2 separate regions of the Homo sapiens genome follow, and region 2 is linked to region 1. Evidence: fine-mapped expression QTL. Tissue or cell type: subcutaneous fat. Region 1 holds a variant in brackets; the other region holds the start of a gene. All regions are shown on one strand. Distances are between the middles of the regions.

Region 1 (8,260 bases):
AGTGTGCAGTGGCTCACGCCTATAATCTCAGCACTTTGGAAGCCCTAGGCGGCTGAATCGCTTGAGGTCAGGAGTTCGAGACCAGTGTGACCAACATGGCGAAACCCCATCTCTACTAAAAATACAAACATTAGGCCGGGCATGGTGGCTCACGCCTGTAATCCCAGCACTTTGGGAGGCCGAGGTGGGCGGATCATCTGAGGTCAGGAGTTCAAGACCAGCCTGACCAACATGGAGAAAGCCCGTCTCTACTAAAAATACAAAATTAACCGGGCATGGTGGAGCATGCTTGTAATCCCAGCTACTCGGGAGGCTGAGGCAGGAGAATCACTTTAACCGGGGAGGCACATGTTGTGGTGAGCCGAGATCGTGCCATTGCAATCCAGCCTTGGCAACAAGAGCAAAACTCCATCTCAAAAAAAAAAAAAAAAACGCAAAATACAAAAATTAGCCAGGTGTGGTGGCACGTGCCTGTAATAATCCCAGCTACTCAGGAGGCTGAGGCAGGAGAATCGCTTGAACACGGGAGGCAGAGGTTGCCGTAAGCCAAGATCACGCCACTGCACTCCAGCTTGGGTGACAGAGTGAGATTCTGTCTCAAAAAAAAAAAAAAAGAAAGAAAGAAAGAAAGAAAAAGAAGAATTATTTATTCTGGATAGAAGTCCTTTATCAGATACATTATTTGCAAATATTTTCTCCCAGGCTGTGGATTGTCTATTCATTTTCTCAACCTATCTTTCACAGAACAAAAGTTTTTATTTGTGATAAGGTACAATTCATCATTTTTTTCTTTATGAATTGTGTTTCCAGTACCAGAAAACTTATCACCAAACCTAAGGTTACACACACACAGGGTCTCCTGTGCTTTTTTCTAGATGTCTTACTTTCTACATTTAAGTTTATGAGCCATTTTTTGGTGTAAGTGTGAGGTACGTGTTGAGGTTTTTTGGTTTTGTTTTTACATATGAATGTCTAATTTTTCCAGCACTGTTTGTTGAAAAGACTGTTCTTTCACCACTGGATTGCCTTTGCATCTTTGTCAAAAATCAGTTGACATTATTTGTGTGGGTTTATTTCTGGTCTCTCTATTGGCTCTATTCACCTAAGTTGTCTACTCTTTCGCTAATACCACACTAATTGCTTTCTAATAAGTCTAATAAGTGGTAGAGTAATTTCTCCTACTATTTTTTTAGTTCCTTTTCATTTCTTTCCCTTTTCATATAAATTTTAGAATCAGTTTGTCAATTTCTATCAAAAAAAAGCTTCCTATGATTTTGATTGATAATGCATTGAATCTATAGATCAAACTGGGGAGAATTAACATATTTACAATATTGAATTTTCTAATCTATGAATACAGTATATCTTTCTATTTATTTATACCTTTTTTTTTTTTTTTTTGAGGCGAGGTATCACTCTGTCACCCAGACTAGAGTGCAGGCTAGAGTGCAGTGGTGCAATCATAGCTCACTGCAACCTTGAACTCCTGTGCTCAAGTGATCTTCCCACCTCAGTCTCCTAAGTAGCCGAGAGTACAGGCACATGCCACCATGCCTGAGTAATTTTTTATTTTGTGTAGAGACTGCGTCTTTCTGTGTCGTCCAAGCTGGTCTCGAACTTCTGGCCTCAAGTGATCCCCCTGCCTCAACCTCCCAAAGCACTGGGATTACAGGTGCACCCAGCCCACACCCAGCCCACACCCAGCCCCCACCCAGCCTACACCTAATCATTTATTTATATCTTTGTTGATTTCCTTTTTCTTTTCTTTTTTTTAATTTAGCCAGCTTTTTTTAAATTTTAACTTTTTTTTGGAGGGGAAAGGGAGTGGTCATGGACATACTGAAGTAGACACAAAAATATAGAGAATACTGCACTTCCCAGGGCTCGTCACACGTGCTTCAAAAATTACCAACAACTTGCCATTTTGTTTCATTATCTGCACCCACAATGGTGGATGAGGGAGTCTAAAAAATATCCCAAACATGAAATCTCAAAAATGTGATTTTAATCATGAATATTTTCACAAACATCCTAACAGATATGAATATAGAGAAAATACACTAAGATTTCACACCTAAGAAAATTTTAAAAATGACTTATAACATTATCCAATACCTAGCCCTTAAAGAAAGGAAATCCTGAATTGTCTGAAATATTTTTTATACTGATTTTGTCTGAATGAGGTCCCACCAGCTCCAAATATGGCATCTGATGGCTGTTCCTCTTAAATCTATTATAATCCATAAATTTACCCAAGTCTCCAAGTAGCCTGTCTGCTCTTTGAAAAAGGAATTGAGAGACCATAATCTGAGTGAAAATTCTCACTGATCATGGATTGTCATTGCTTTTAAACCATTCTTTGAAAAGTATTGCAGAAAAAAATGTTTTGTTTTCTTTTTTTTTGAGACAGAGTCTCACTCTGTCTCCCAGGCTGGAGTGCAATGGCGCAATCTCGGCTCACTGCATCCTCCACCTCCCAGATTCAAGCAATTCTCCTGCCCCAGCCTCCCGAGTAGCTGGGACTACAGGCGCGCTCCACCACGCCCTGCTAATTTTTGTATTTTTAGTAAAGACCGGGTTTCACCATGTTGGCCAGGCTGGTCTCAAACTCCTGACCTCCTGTGATCCGCCTGCCTCAGCCTGCCAAAGTGCTGGGATTACAGGCGTGAGCCACCGCGCCCGGCCAAAGGTGTGTTTTTTATGAGAGTATTTTTAAAAACATTCAAATTGTCGGTCACAGCTCCTTGCCTATGCGCCTAAAAAGAGATAGCCCAAGACAGACGGGGGAAAGAAAAGGGGAGACAGAAACAAAAAGAAAACTGGCAAACAGAGGAGAAGTCCAAAAGCCCAACTCCCATAAGTCAAGACTTCCCACAGTTCTCTAAGTCAGCAAATGAATGTAATTTAAACTGCTTTAAACGTCATACAAAAATAAATCCTTTTTAGTAAATCGATAAACAGAGGCATCTCCGTGACGACTGGTGGCAGCATGTACTCCTCCTTTTCTAAAACAAGGAGTTCTAAAACAACTCAAGGCAGCAGAGAGCCCTGAGTTGCAAACATGAAAAGCATAACTTTCTCGAGTTGGCTGTTAAGTGTAATAGGAGAGGCACCACTCCACTCCTACCTCTCCTTTCTTTAACCAATGCATTTTGGCTACAGAAGAAATTATGCCTATTCTTAGTCACTATTAAGCACATATACAATGTCGAAAATTGAACAGTACTCCAAGAGGGTGCAAAATGACTACATGCCACTTTAACTGAGGCTTCCAAAAATTGAGATTTCTACTTATAAGGAATGTGGTACACATTAGAACTACTGAGTCCCATGGTCATCCATGCATTACCTTACCCTTTTTGTATAACTTATAGAAATGGGTCCAAAAAGACGTTGTGAGATATGAGGTATGAAGTGTTCAGTAAGTTCATTGATGGTCCTGCTAGCAATAGCATGTAAGTGAAGCATATCCAAATCTAGAGTAAGTGTTTATCTCAGTGAAGACAAATCCCTGCCCCATCCATGACAAAATACTTGCAAGAATACAAGAATACTTCCCCTGACATATGGGACACTTAGCAGCATCAGCATCCAGAGGTCAGCCTTGGTGAGCTAAGTCTATACTATAGAGCTCAAGTATAACCTCTACCACTGCCTGCCACCCTAGTCACATTTTTTTTTTTTTTTTTTGAGATAGAGTCTCACTCCGTCACCCAGGCTGGAGTGCAATGGCGTGATCTCAGCTCACTACAACCTCCACCTCCCAGGTTCAAGTGATTCTCCTGCCTCAGCCTCCCGAGTAGCTGGGATTGCAGTCACCCGCCACCAGGCCCGGCTAATATTTGTATTCTTAGTAGAGATGGGGTTTCACCATGTTGGCCAGGCTGGTCTCAAACTCCTGACCTCAGATGATCCACCCACCTCGGCCTCCCAAAGTGCTGGCATTATAGGCGTGAGCCACCACGCTGGCCACATTGTTTACAAATAAATCACTTGGGCAGTAAGTGGGGTGATACGAAGAGACTACATGACAGCCATATGGTTGATGTGTACCTGATTGCTGATAGCCTCCTCTGAAGAGTGGGAATTTCGATTAGCATTCACGTGGGACATTATTCTCATATTCTGGGACCGTTCTGGGAAATTCATCCACATCACTGTTTCCTGAAACTTCTTGTCAACACAACCTTCACTTTTGCCCACTTAAAATCTCTGTCTATCCACACCATTAGCCATGCACATTCAGTTTAGATCAGTGTCTTAGGTCACGCTCCTTCCAGAAAAAGTAAACAATGACATTCAATACTCCAAATACTGCTGAGTGGCAGCAATTCTTTCCCTATTGCCAATTATGGACATATTTGACTGGGGTAATATTATTACGGCTTCTAATACTACTGTTACAATTGGCTTCAGTAGTATTAGCCAACATATGTTGAATGCTTACTATGTACAGGACAGTGTTCTAAGCATACTAAAACTATTCGCTCATGAGAGGCACGATTACCTCTCCATTTTTAAAATGAGGGGAAAAGCCAGAGGAAAATAAGAAGAAAAAAGAAAAAAGCCAATTTGTCTGGAACTGGTTAGTAATGGGCTGAACTTGTAGCATTCAGTTTTTCTTTTCTTTCTTTCTC[T/TTTTATTTA]TTTATTTATTTATTTATTTATTTATTTATTTATTTATTTCTTGAGACGGAATCTCCATCGCCCAGGCTGGAGTGCAGTGGTGCAGTCTTGGCTCACCGCCTCCTCCGCCTCCTGGGGTCAAGCAATTCTCTTGCTTCAGCCTCCCAAGTAGCTGGGATTACAGGCGTGTGCCAACACACTGGGCTAATTTTTGTATTTTTAGTAGAGACGGGGTTTCACCATGTTGGCCAGACTGGTCTTGAACTCCTGACCGCAAGTGATCCGCCCGCCTCGGCCTCCCAAAGTGCTGGGATTACAGGCAGGAGCCACCATGCCCGGCCCCATGTTGATTTCTTTCGTCAGTATTTTGTAGTTTTTAGCACACATATCTCCCACGTATTTTGTTATATTTATACCTAAAAACTTCATGGGGGCTGCTATTGTAAATGGTATTCTATAAACTACAGTACGTTGTTTCTTTGTATAGATCCAAGATTTTGATTATATTTCTTCTTCTTCTTTCTTTTTTGAGACGAAGTTTCACTCTGTTCAACCCAGGCTGACACAATCTCGGCTCCCTGCGACCTCCGCCTCCCGGGTTCAAGCAATTCTCCTGCCTCAGCCACTTGAGTAGCTGGGACTACAGGCGCCCACCACCACGCCCAGATAATTTTTGTGTTTTTAGTAGAGACAGGGTTTCACCATGTTGGCCAGGCTGGTCTCAAACTCCTGACCTCAAGTGATCACCCGCCTTGGCCCCCCAAAGTGCTGGGATTACAGGCGTGAGCCACCACACCCAGCCTCTTCTTCTTAGAGAACTTGCTTTGACATTTATTATAAAGTAGGTCTGCTGGCAATCAACTTCCTCAGTTTCTGTTTGTCTGATAAACTTTTAATTTTGGCCTGGTGTAGTTGCTAATGCTTGTAATCCCAGCATTTTGGGAGGCTGAGGTGGGAGGATCACTGGAGTCCAGGAGTTTCAGACCATCCTGGGAAACGTAGTGAGACCCCGTCTCTAAAAAAATAAAAATAAAAATAGAAAACTCTTAATTTGGGCCAGGCACAGTGGCTCACGCCTGTAATCCTAGCACTTTGGGAGGCCAAGGTTGGTGGATCACCTGAAGTCAGGAGTTTGAGACTAGCCTGGCCAACATGGCGAAAACCCGTCTCTACTAAAAATACAAAAATTAGCTGGGTATGATGGCAGGCACCTAGCTGAGGCAGGAGAATCACTTGAACCCGGGAGGCGGAGGTTGCAGTGAGCCAAGATCATGCCACTGCACTCCAGCCTGAGTGATGGAGCGAGACTCCATCTCAAAAAAAAAAAAAAAAAAGATATTACTCCATTTCATTTTGCTTTTATTGTTTCTGACTAGCAGTCTGCTGTAATTCTTATCCTCGCTCCTCGGTAAGATATTATGTTTTTTCCCCCTTGGCTGACTTCCAGATTTTCTTTCTCTTTGGTTTTCAGCAGTTTTAATATGATATGCCTAGATGCATGGGTTTGGTGAGGGGCTGTGTTGTTTTGGTATTTATCCTGCTTGGTGTTCTCTGAGCTTCCTTGATCTGTGCTTTTCTGTCTGTTACTAATTTTGGATAATTCTAAGCCATTATCTCTTCAAATGTTTCTCCTGTCTTATTCTTTTTGTTCGTTTGTTTGTTTGTTTAACTAAGTCTGATTAGACAAATCCTGTCCAAGTCTTTCTTCTCCTTCTGGAATTCCAATTATGGGCATGTTAACTCATTTGGTATTCTTGGATGGTGTCTTCTTTCTTTCTTTTTTGTTGTTGTTCTGTTTTGTTTTTTACCCACTCTTTTTTTGCACTTCAGTTTGGGTAATTCCTCTTTATTTTTTTGCAATTTTATAACTTTATTTGATGTATTTGACTATCAGCGATTAGTTCTCATCCACATTGACTGTCTGTAGATTTTTGAAAGTGGTAGCAAATACATAGGTAACCAAAGTATAGAGCTTATTTGTGAATCTTCATCCTCATTACGTTTTCTGGACAGCCGCACATGGATTCGGTGTCGGACATTCCTTATTCCTTTGGCCCAGACAGCTTTGTTGAGCCTGGTATCAATGCGCACATCTGGAGTTTCCATCTCCTTCATGGCAAATTTCCGAATCTCTTTGAGTGCCCGAGGGGCACGCTTCTTGAAGCCTACTCCACAAATGCGCTTGTGAATGTTGATGGTGTATTCTCGGGTCACCACTTCGTTGATGGCAGAACGGCCCTTTTTCTTCTCGCCACCCTTCTTTGTGGGAGCCATTCTGCCATGTCCAAGTTGGAAAGGGAGTTTGGGAAATTTCTATTGACCTCTACACCCAAGGTCACTGATTCTTTTCTCAGCTATACTGAGTCTACTGATGAACCAGTCAAAGGTGTTCTTCATTTCTGTCACCACGATTTTATTTCAAGCATTTCCATTTTATTCTTATGGTTTCCTCTGCTGAATTTATCCATCTTCTTTTGGCATGTTGTCTACCTTTTCCATTAAATCCTTTAACATAATCATGTTACTTTAAATTCCATGTCTGATGTCATATCTGAGTCTGGTTCTGATTTTTTTTTTTTGTCTTTTTAGATTGTGTCTTTTTCTTTTTTTTGAAACGGAGTATTGCTCTGTCACCCAGGTTGGAGTGCAGTGGCATGATCTCTGTTCATTGCAACCTCTGCTTCCTGGGTTCAAGCAATTCTCCTGCCTCAGCCTCCCCAGTAGCTGGGTTGACAGGCATGCGCTACCATGCCTAGCTAATTTTTGTATTTGTAGAGAGGGGTTTCACCATACTGGCCAGGCTGATCTTGAACTCCTGACCTCGTCATCCGCCTGCCTTGGCCTCCCTAAGTACTGAGACTACAGGTGTGAGCCACCATGCCCAGTCCAGATTGTGTTTTTTCTTTCCTTTTTGTATACCTTGTGGTTTTCATTGAAAGCTGGATATGCTGTATAACACAACAGATACTGACATAAATATTTTGTATTCTTGAAGATAAGCATTCATTTCTTTCTGCTACTTCTCTAGTATAGAGATTTCCATTAATGTAGTCAGGAGGGCTGGGTTTGAAGTTTGCTTTTGCACCAACATATATTATTATCCTCAGTGCATCAGGGGCTTAAAATTCCTCTAGTGGTGCCTTGTTTTTGTCTCTTGGATTTGTATCTTCCTTTTGCACTGTTCCCTAAATAAAGTCTGTCTCTTGCAAGTTCTCCCAGATACATTCTTGTATTATTTTTCACTGGAGGCCTGTCATGTGGTGGTAGGCTATGAAGGAGGTTATGTGTTCCCTTGTGTTATGATTGAGGCTCAGCCTTAGGTAGGCACTATGAACCTGGATCTTGGGAGTGTGGCCTTCATAATTGCCCTTCCTCCAGGTATAATGGTTGGCCTGGCAATTATTCCGGTCCTCACTAAAAGGAAGAACTTCTTCTTTTTTCCCCTGTTCCCTTCCCCTAATTTCAGTGGGTTTCCACCAATGCCCTCTGCCCATAAGTTTTGTGTTTTCTGTTTTTTTGAGACAGAGTCTCACTCTGTCCCCCAGGCTGAAGTGCAGTGGTGCGATGTTGGCTCACTACAACCTCTGCGTGATGGGTTGAAGCGATTCTCCTGCCTCAGCCTCCTAAGTAGCTGGGATTACAG
Region 2 (8,000 bases), 560 kb after region 1:
CTTTCCTAACATCCCTCCATTCACCAGAGGAGTTTGAGGGCTCTTGAGTAAGAAAACTGAGTATCATCTTTCATCACTTTTTGGTTAGATGAAAACTTTATAATTAAAGTGCTTTTTATGTGAATAATCCTATTTGATCTCATAAAATCAATCCTATGAGATGCAAGATAGAAACTGTCAACCACCCCCTTTTCTAATTTTGGTTCAATGTCTCTGAGCCATATGAATAGCTGTAGCAGGCTCCAGAGCCCAAACAACCAGACTCAGGTCCCACGTTCTTGGTGATACCCCACAGTGTGGCCACATCTCTCACCTGGTGAAACTTTCATCCTGTAGGTTCAGCACAAGGTTGTCAGCTGTGAGATAGATACGATTCTGTGATGTGGCGATCTACAGGGCAGGAAATAAGACAGATGCTTGCATTAAGCAAAGACCTCAATTCCGACCCCTGCAATTCAGCAGCTACTTAACATGGAACACATGCAGATTAGGGCAGGGGTGCAGCAATGAGTAACACATGGTTTCTGCTCGCACTTAGGGATCCAGAGCGCTGAGCAGCAGCTATGATTAGAACAAAAGGTCAGGGAACCCAGAGGAATCATTCTTGACAGGAGGAGTATCGGAGAAGCCAATTTTTTATTTATTTATTTTTGAGACGGAGTCTTGCTCTGTTGCTCAGGCTGGAGTGCAGTGGCATGATCTCAGCTCACTGCAACTTCCGCCTCCTGGGTTCAAGTGATTCTCCTGCCTCAGCCTCCTGCGTAGCTGGGAATATAGCTAAACGCCACCACAGCGGGCTCATTATCTTTTGTATTTTTAGTAGAGATGGGGTTTCACCATGTTGGCCAGGCTGGTCTCGAACTCCTGACCTCAGGTGATCCACCCACCTTGGCCTCCCAAAGTGCGGGGATTACATGCGTGAGCCACCGCGCCGGCCAGAGAAGCCAATCTGAGTAGAAACCGGAACAAGCAAGGTTCGAATTCCCTCACCTCAATGTGCCTTAACTGAAAGCACTTTCTCAAGGCAGCCCCATCAGAGACGCTGGGCTGACACACTCACCGTCTTGGAGATATTCTGGGCTGCTCGAATCTTGCGAAGTTTGATGTAGCCAGGGTTCTTGCTCAGTGCTTCTCCAAGGTGAGGAGGGTTAAGGTACACGCAAGGGCAGGTCTCAATCCCTGGCCCTGTCCTTACCACACTCCCTTGCTCCAGTCCTCCTCTGGGCTGTCAGATCCAAGGTTGCGCTCAGGTGGCTTGTGCCCAGCCCTACCGTGGACCCCACCTGTGGGCCTCCCTGCAGGCTGCTGCCAGGAACTAGGGGCAGCACCAGAAATGAAGGCAAGGCCACCAATGCTATTGATCTGGCCTTACAGTGGGGAGTCATGGCTCAGGTACTACCACTAAGATTTCAGATCTCATCTGTAGTCCCCACCCCCAACAAGGAGCCAAGGGCCAGAGAGCACGGAGTCGCATTCGCCTTAGTCTCATCAGCCTGCCCATGAAGGAGAATGGGGAACTCAGGTGCCCTAGGGGCTGGGCTGAGATCTCTCCAGCAGAAGGATATCATCTTGGCAGCCTCGGCCTCACCCTCGGCCTGCACAATTTTCTGCCGCTGTTCCTGCTTTGCTTTTTCTACCAAGAATTGGGCCCGCTGGGCCTCCTGCTGGGCTGTGGTGGGAGAGAGTCAGGGAGACCCTGTCCTGGGTCAGGAGCCCCACCCATGGAGTCTTTCCTCCTCCTGCATCTCAGAAGCCCTCACCCCACGGCTCTTGCGACTCACCCACTTGTTTGGCTTCTACAGCAGCTGTGTACTCTCGGCTAAAGCTCAGCTCTGTGATGGCCACATCATCCAGGATGAGGCTGAAGTCCTTGGCCCTCTCTGTCAGCTCCCGGCGGATCAACAGGGATACCTGAGGGCAGGGGTGAAGAGGGGAAGGGAGGGGTGGTTTGAGGGGACTGGGGAGCTGAAAGGAAGGTTGCGACCCCTAACCCTTCACTCTCAATACAACATGCACTGCCTTAGCTTCCTGTCAGGCAAACCTGTAACATAAGCCTCTCTGCTCGAAGAGGTGCAGGAAAAGCCAAGACTTGGCCATTTTCCTCTGTGCTTCCTAACACCGAGTGCTATCGAGTTCTAATGCTGGCTCTCCTTATTTCACAGTGGCAATTAGCACAGCTTTTAGGTGGAAATGGCACTAGGGTGACAATGCTTTTCTAATAAGCTGCCTTTCCTAATTCCCAATACTCTGGGCCTAGGAAGGAAAGGCTGACACCACGCAGATGGTGGTGGGAGTCAGACCTGGGCCCGCTGGGTGATCAGCTGTGAGGCATTGAACTTGGCCACCACACTCTTGAGCACCTCGTTGACAATGGACGGCAACACTCGTTCCTCGTAGTCCAGCCCTAGGCGCTGGTACATGCTAGGAAGCTCCTGAGCATTGGGTCGAGACAACACTCGCAGGGAGATATTCACCATCTGTAGGTCTGAGATTGAGGTCAGCAGTGGCTGGTCAAGGCCAAACACCCTTTCCCAAGCATTTTCTCCTTCATGTTCCTCCCTGTATGCCCTGTGCAATGGTGTACAGCCTGGCACTACCCTGGGGGGAGGAGAGTTAATCAGGCTGACAAGGAAGACAAGACGCAGCACAGCTGAAATGCACCCTCACCCACTGTGAAGCCTTGAACTGCAAACCCCGTCACCAGCAGAGCTGACTACTCTTTCCCCCTCTGTACTCTGTGCAACCTCTAACGTGGGCGCTTTCGTGCTGTACCGTAATCATGTCTCCTGTAAGGACTTGGGGGACAAGAATTGTGTTTAATGAATCTTTTATTCCCAGGGCCCAGTCTAGTAAATGAATAAGCGACCTGCACTAGGTATAGCACAAAGAAGTACATTACAGGTTACAGGTGAGCTACCTGACCCAGGGTGTATATGTGTGCGTGGGTGGGGAGGAGGAAGAGGTCTGGGGAACTCAAAGGCACGGCTTTTATGTATGGTCTAGAAGGAGAGAACAGGTGAACTAGTCAAGCTTAGGGACAAACTTCTCCAGAACAGAGTGTACTAGTGGATGTAACTGTAGATATAGTAAGTCAAGCAGTTAGAAAAAAAAGGCTTTAAAACAAAGCTTTGATCTAGGCAGTGAACAAGACGAGGGACAAACAATACTCTTATTGAATACACGTCAGGGAGGAGACAGTAAAAAGCACGCAAACACAGTGTGTTCAGAATTTGCTGCTTTGACCCCAGGAGGCAGGTATTTTTGTTACAGCTCTTGCAGATGTGGAAAGAGGCCTAAAGGCCTGACACTACCATATTCCCCTGGGGTTTCTTGCCAGCTACCTTGATCATCCCACCTGCCATGTGATTACCAAGTGCTCAGACCTACCTTTGGAGCCTGTAGGGGAGGAGATTTTTCGAGGTCTGGCCCGAATGTCATAGATAATGGGGTACTGGAACCAAGGGATCCTGGAGAGGACAGGGATAGGTATTAAGAGGCCACAGTTTCGGCCGGGCGCGGTGGCTCACGCCTGTAATCCCAGCACTTTGGGAGGCCGAGGCGGGCGGATCATTTGAGGTCAGGAGTTCGAGACCAGCTTGATCTACATAGTGAAACCCCGTCTCTACTAAAATACAAAAATTAGCCGGGCGTGGTGGCGGGCGCCTGTAATCCCAGCTACTCGTGAGGCTGAGGCAGGAGAATCGCTTGAAATCAGGAGGCGGAGGTTGCAGTGAGCCGAGATCGCGCCACTGCACTCCAGCCTGGGCGACAGAGCAAGACTCCCTCTCCAAAAAAAAAAAAAGAAAAGGCCGCAGTTTCACTAGCCTTGCCCGGTTTCCCCTCACCACGCGTTTTTTGGCCTGCTCCTCTCCACGACCACAGACAAGGAGAGATTCTCTTGTCCCTCTGGAAAACAACAGTTTGTATGCTGCTGGAGGTTCTCGCAGCACCCACTATCCTAGGGGCAGGGATGAGGAGGGTGGGAAAAGAGCAGCGTTGAATCCTGTTGCACGTCCGACTATAGCCACTGCTGGGTCGGCGTCAAGGGTGAAAGGTCAGGGTCAGCAGGCTCTGCCCGCCATTACCTGAAGTGAAGGCCCTCGGCCAGGATAGTGTCCTGCTGCACTCCACCGATCCGATTGAAGAAGATGGCTCTGTGCCCGCCTTCCACTGTGGGGAGATGGGTGGTGATCAGGCCAGGCCGCTGCTCAGAGGAAATGCTAGGCCCGTGGAGGGGCGCGGGGACAGGGCAAGGGGTTTGGGGGAGGGACTGGAAGCGTCCGGCGAGCAGGCGGAGGTTGCTCACCGGTGAACACAGATTCGCGCACACCGTAGGCCACGGCGCCGGCCCCCAGCAACAGCTTCAGGGCCGTGCCCATGCCCCGGGGCCCGGCGGGCAGCCGTCCCGCCAAGTCCTTCAAGTTCTGGGCCATGTCTGATCTTGAGGCCGGCGGCACTGGAGGTCAGAAGGGGGTGCCGGCCCGCCTCTACCCCGCTCCGGCTTAGGTACTGCACCCTTCACACGAGGGTTCGGGCCCGTAAGGCTGGCGAAAGAAAGGGCAGCGGAAGTGCGCTCCCTTTGAAACCCTCCCCCTTAGCCCACTACGGACCCGAACTTCGCGCACAGGAATCGCGCATACGGAAGTCCCGCCCCTTTCTGGAAGGCTGCCCTCCCAGGGAGGGCAGCGCAAGACAGCAAGTCATCTCCATTTCCTGGCCCACTTTCAAAATGGCAGCCGGAAGGAAATTTGTGATTAGAAGCCGCGCTGTTCTTATTTAAGAGCGTTAGCGCAACTTCCGGTATTGTTGCAAGATGGCCGCGCCCAGTGATGGATTCAAGCCTCGTGAACGAAGCGGTGGGGAGCAGGCACAGGACTGGGATGCTCTGCCACCCAAGCGGCCCCGACTAGGGGCAGGAAACAAGATCGGAGGCCGTAGGCTTATTGTGGTGCTGGAAGGGGCCAGTCTGGAGACAGTCAAGGTAGTTTGGGACAGGAAGTGGAGAAGTAGTAAATCGATAGGTTGGGACTCCGTGGAATGAGGGTAAGGGGCCCAGAGTGGATGTAGAAAGCAGAGAGGGGTGAAAGATGCTTTTGAAGGAAGGTGGCTTGGTTGGCTTTGCGTTGATTTGACATCCTGGGATGGTAGTACTCATTTTTCTTTCTTTTTTTTTTTTTTTTTGAGACGGAGTCTCGCTCTGTCGCCCAGGCTGGAGTGCAGTTGCGCGACCTCGGCTCACTGCAACTTCTGCCTCCCGCCTTCAAACAGTTCTCCTGACTCAGCCTCTGGAGTAGCTGGGACTACAGGCAGGTGCCACCACGCCCGGCTAATTTTTTTGTATTTTTAGTTCAGATGGGGTTTCACCATGTTGGCCACGCTGGTCTCGAACTCCTGACCTCAAGTGATCCGCCCGCCTCGGCCTCCCAAAGTGTTGGGATTAGAGGCGTGAGCCACTGTGCCCGGCCGGTAGTACTCATTTTCTTTTGCTCTTTTTGAATGATATTCTAGCCCTCACCTCCTTGCTTCCAATTGGTTTACCAGGATTCTGTGGTATAGTAGTCTAAGCAGAGGAAAGTTTCGTTCCTTGCGTCATTCCACATCCCAAGACAAGTTACTGGGCAGATGAGAAACGTAGTTATGTAGCCTAGTCTGCCCACACTTTTTGTAAGGGCTTCGTGTTTCAATTCATTAGTATCCATAGTCACCTCTCTCTAATATCCACCTATGATACACTGTCCAGACCTGGTTATTATTTAAAACTTTTACATCTGCATTTTTATCTATCATTCATCTCTTTCCCCACATGTAATAGAACCAGCAGTTCTCTATCTTAAAGCCTTGGGCAGTGTTCTTCCTCCTCCTTTCTCTTACCCGTTAGAACTAATTGAATAGGCCCAGAAGAAATCGCATTGGTTTAGAAGTCAGGCCAGGATTTTAATCTTCGTTCTAAATACACTTTTTTTTTTTTTTTTTTTTGAGATGGAGTCTCAGTCTCTACCAGGCTGGAGTGCAGTGGCACGATCTTGGCTCACTGCAGCCTCCGCCTCCCGGGTTCAATCGATTCTCCTGCCTCAGCCTCCAGAGTAGCTGGGATTACAGGCCTGCGCCTGTAATCTATTAAAAGAATAGAAAACATGATTATATCCTACTAATGGGTTGAAACTGTATTATTCATTCAAGAAGGTTTTTTTCTTCTATAACTAAGGGTGTCTCATGGACTTAGTTCTTGGTCATTTGTTCTTTGTGCTCTCTGTGACATTACTTCAACTATTCAATTTCAAAATCTACATCCCTTTTTTCGCAGACTTTTTGGAGCCATATATCTCAAGAATGTTGCTAGACATATACATTCCAGTGATACATAAAAACTTAACCTTCCAAAACTTGTATTTGTATATAACAGTTTGTTTTTAGACTTTTTACTGACCACCCTAATGCTCCTTGGGACTCCAAATTGCAACTTGGAATTATTTCTTTTAGCTGCTACAGATGTAGTCCACTTCTTTAACATCAAACTTCTGATGTCTTTTCCAGTGTACAGAGAGTTGTTAGGATAGTGTCTGTCAGTCATTCCCATCCTGCCCTGCTTACTCCAGAATTATTTTTGGCTTTGTGCTTGATACATTAGGATTCTGTGGTTTACAAAGCAGCTTCATATATAATCACTGCCCTTTAGTGTCTCAGCTCCCAATTTTCCTCAAAATTTCCTTTCTTCGTTTCCACTTTTTCTTTTTTGTTTCTTTTTTGAGATAGGGTCTTGCTCTGTTGCCTGGGCAACAGAGTGCAGTGGTGTGATGGTTCACTGCAGCCTCTACTTCCCTGGCTCAAGCAGTCCTCCCACCTCATCCTCCTGAGTAACTGGGACTGCCAGCAAATGGCACTGCGCCTGGCTAATTTTTTTTTTTTTTTTTGTGAGACAGGGTCCCACCGTGTTGCCCAGGCCGGTCTCAAATTCCTGGGCTCAAGTGATCCTTCCACCTCGGCCTCCTAAAGTGTTGGGATCACAGGCATAAGCCACCACACCTGGCTACTTTGTCTTGATTCCATCTGTACCTTTGCTCATGCCAGTCTTTCTTTTTTCTTTTTTTTGAGACAGGGTCTTGCTGGAGTGCAGTGGTACAGTCTTGGCTCACTGCAATCTCTGTCTCCTGGGCTCAAGCCATCCTCCCACCTTAGCCTCCCAAGTAGCTAGGACTACAGGCATGTGCCACCATGCCCAGCTAATTTTTGTATTTTTAGTAGAGATGGGGTTTCGCCATGTTGCCCAGGCTGGTCTTGAACTCCTGACCTTAAGTGATTTGCCTGCCTTGGCCTCCCAGAGTGCTGGGATTACAGCCGTGAGCCACTGCATCTGCCCCCATGCCCGTCTTAAAACTGGGAATAACCCCTCTTCCTTTTACTTCTGAGAGTTTTCTTTGATTAAACTGCCTCCTGCATCATTAGTTTTCACATTTCTTTTTTTTGAGATGGAGTCTCGCTCTGTTGCCCGGGCTGGAGTGCAGTGGCGCTGCAAGCTCCGCCTCCTGGGTTCATGCCATTCTCCTGCCTCTGCCTCCCAAGTAGCTGGGACTACAGGCGCCTGCCACCATGCCCGGCTAATTTTTTATATTTTTAGTAGAGATGGGGTTTCACCGTGTTAGCCACGATGGTCTCAATCTCCTGACCTTGTGATCTGCCCGCCTCGGCCTCCCAAAGTGCTGGGATTACAGGCGTGAGCCACCACGCCCGGCCTTCACATTTCTTGTTCAGATTTGCAGCTCTTCACTTAGTGCATGTTTGGTGTACGCAAACTGAGGGTGGTGACTCGATATTTTGCACAGTACCTACTTACTGCTCCTGTAATAAACACAGCATTCAGCCTTGCTAACTACTAACTCCTGCCTAGTTCCAGGATGTCTCATTGGCCTTGCCTAACAGCCACAGGTTTTTTAATTAAATCCAGTGTATTAGTAGATAATGTGAAGTCACAGGTTGTGCCCTTCCTCCTGTTTCCCTCTCAG

Which allele goes with the higher level. Positions count from the first base shown, and alleles are read on the strand shown. Sizes are in standard deviations (SD) of each study's normalised expression.
As copies of T replace TTTTATTTA in region 1, the expression in subcutaneous fat of the gene that starts at base 4,554 in region 2 goes down (small effect, 0.35 SD a copy in FUSION).

The links. PIP is the estimated chance that this variant, and not a neighbour inherited with it, causes the effect.
Region 2: it holds the start of PHB2, and the variant in region 1 is fine-mapped to the expression of PHB2 in subcutaneous fat (FUSION, PIP 0.94).

Annotation. Positions count from the first base shown.
Region 1 is chr12:6,403,123-6,411,382 of GRCh38, forward strand. It overlaps the pseudogene RPL31P10. Among named protein-coding and RNA genes, the nearest start is that of LTBR, 23 kb to the left of the region's middle. The variant T/TTTTATTTA (reference allele first, on the strand shown) is at 4,638.
Region 2 is chr12:6,966,111-6,974,110 of GRCh38, forward strand. PHB2 (prohibitin 2) reads right to left here and starts at 4,554. Exons shown (of 10, transcript NM_001144831.2): 1 at 4,307-4,554; 2 at 4,086-4,170; 3 at 3,388-3,467; 4 at 2,301-2,485; 5 at 1,782-1,911; 6 at 1,566-1,669; 7 at 1,061-1,138; 8 at 314-390. The coding sequence starts at 4,433. It overlaps EMG1 (EMG1 N1-specific pseudouridine methyltransferase), which reads left to right and starts at 4,803. Exons shown (of 6, transcript NM_006331.8): 1 at 4,803-4,981. The coding sequence starts at 4,814. It also overlaps SCARNA12. RefSeq lists enhancers at 953-1,453, 4,478-5,080, 4,601-4,670, 4,761-4,940, 4,991-5,110.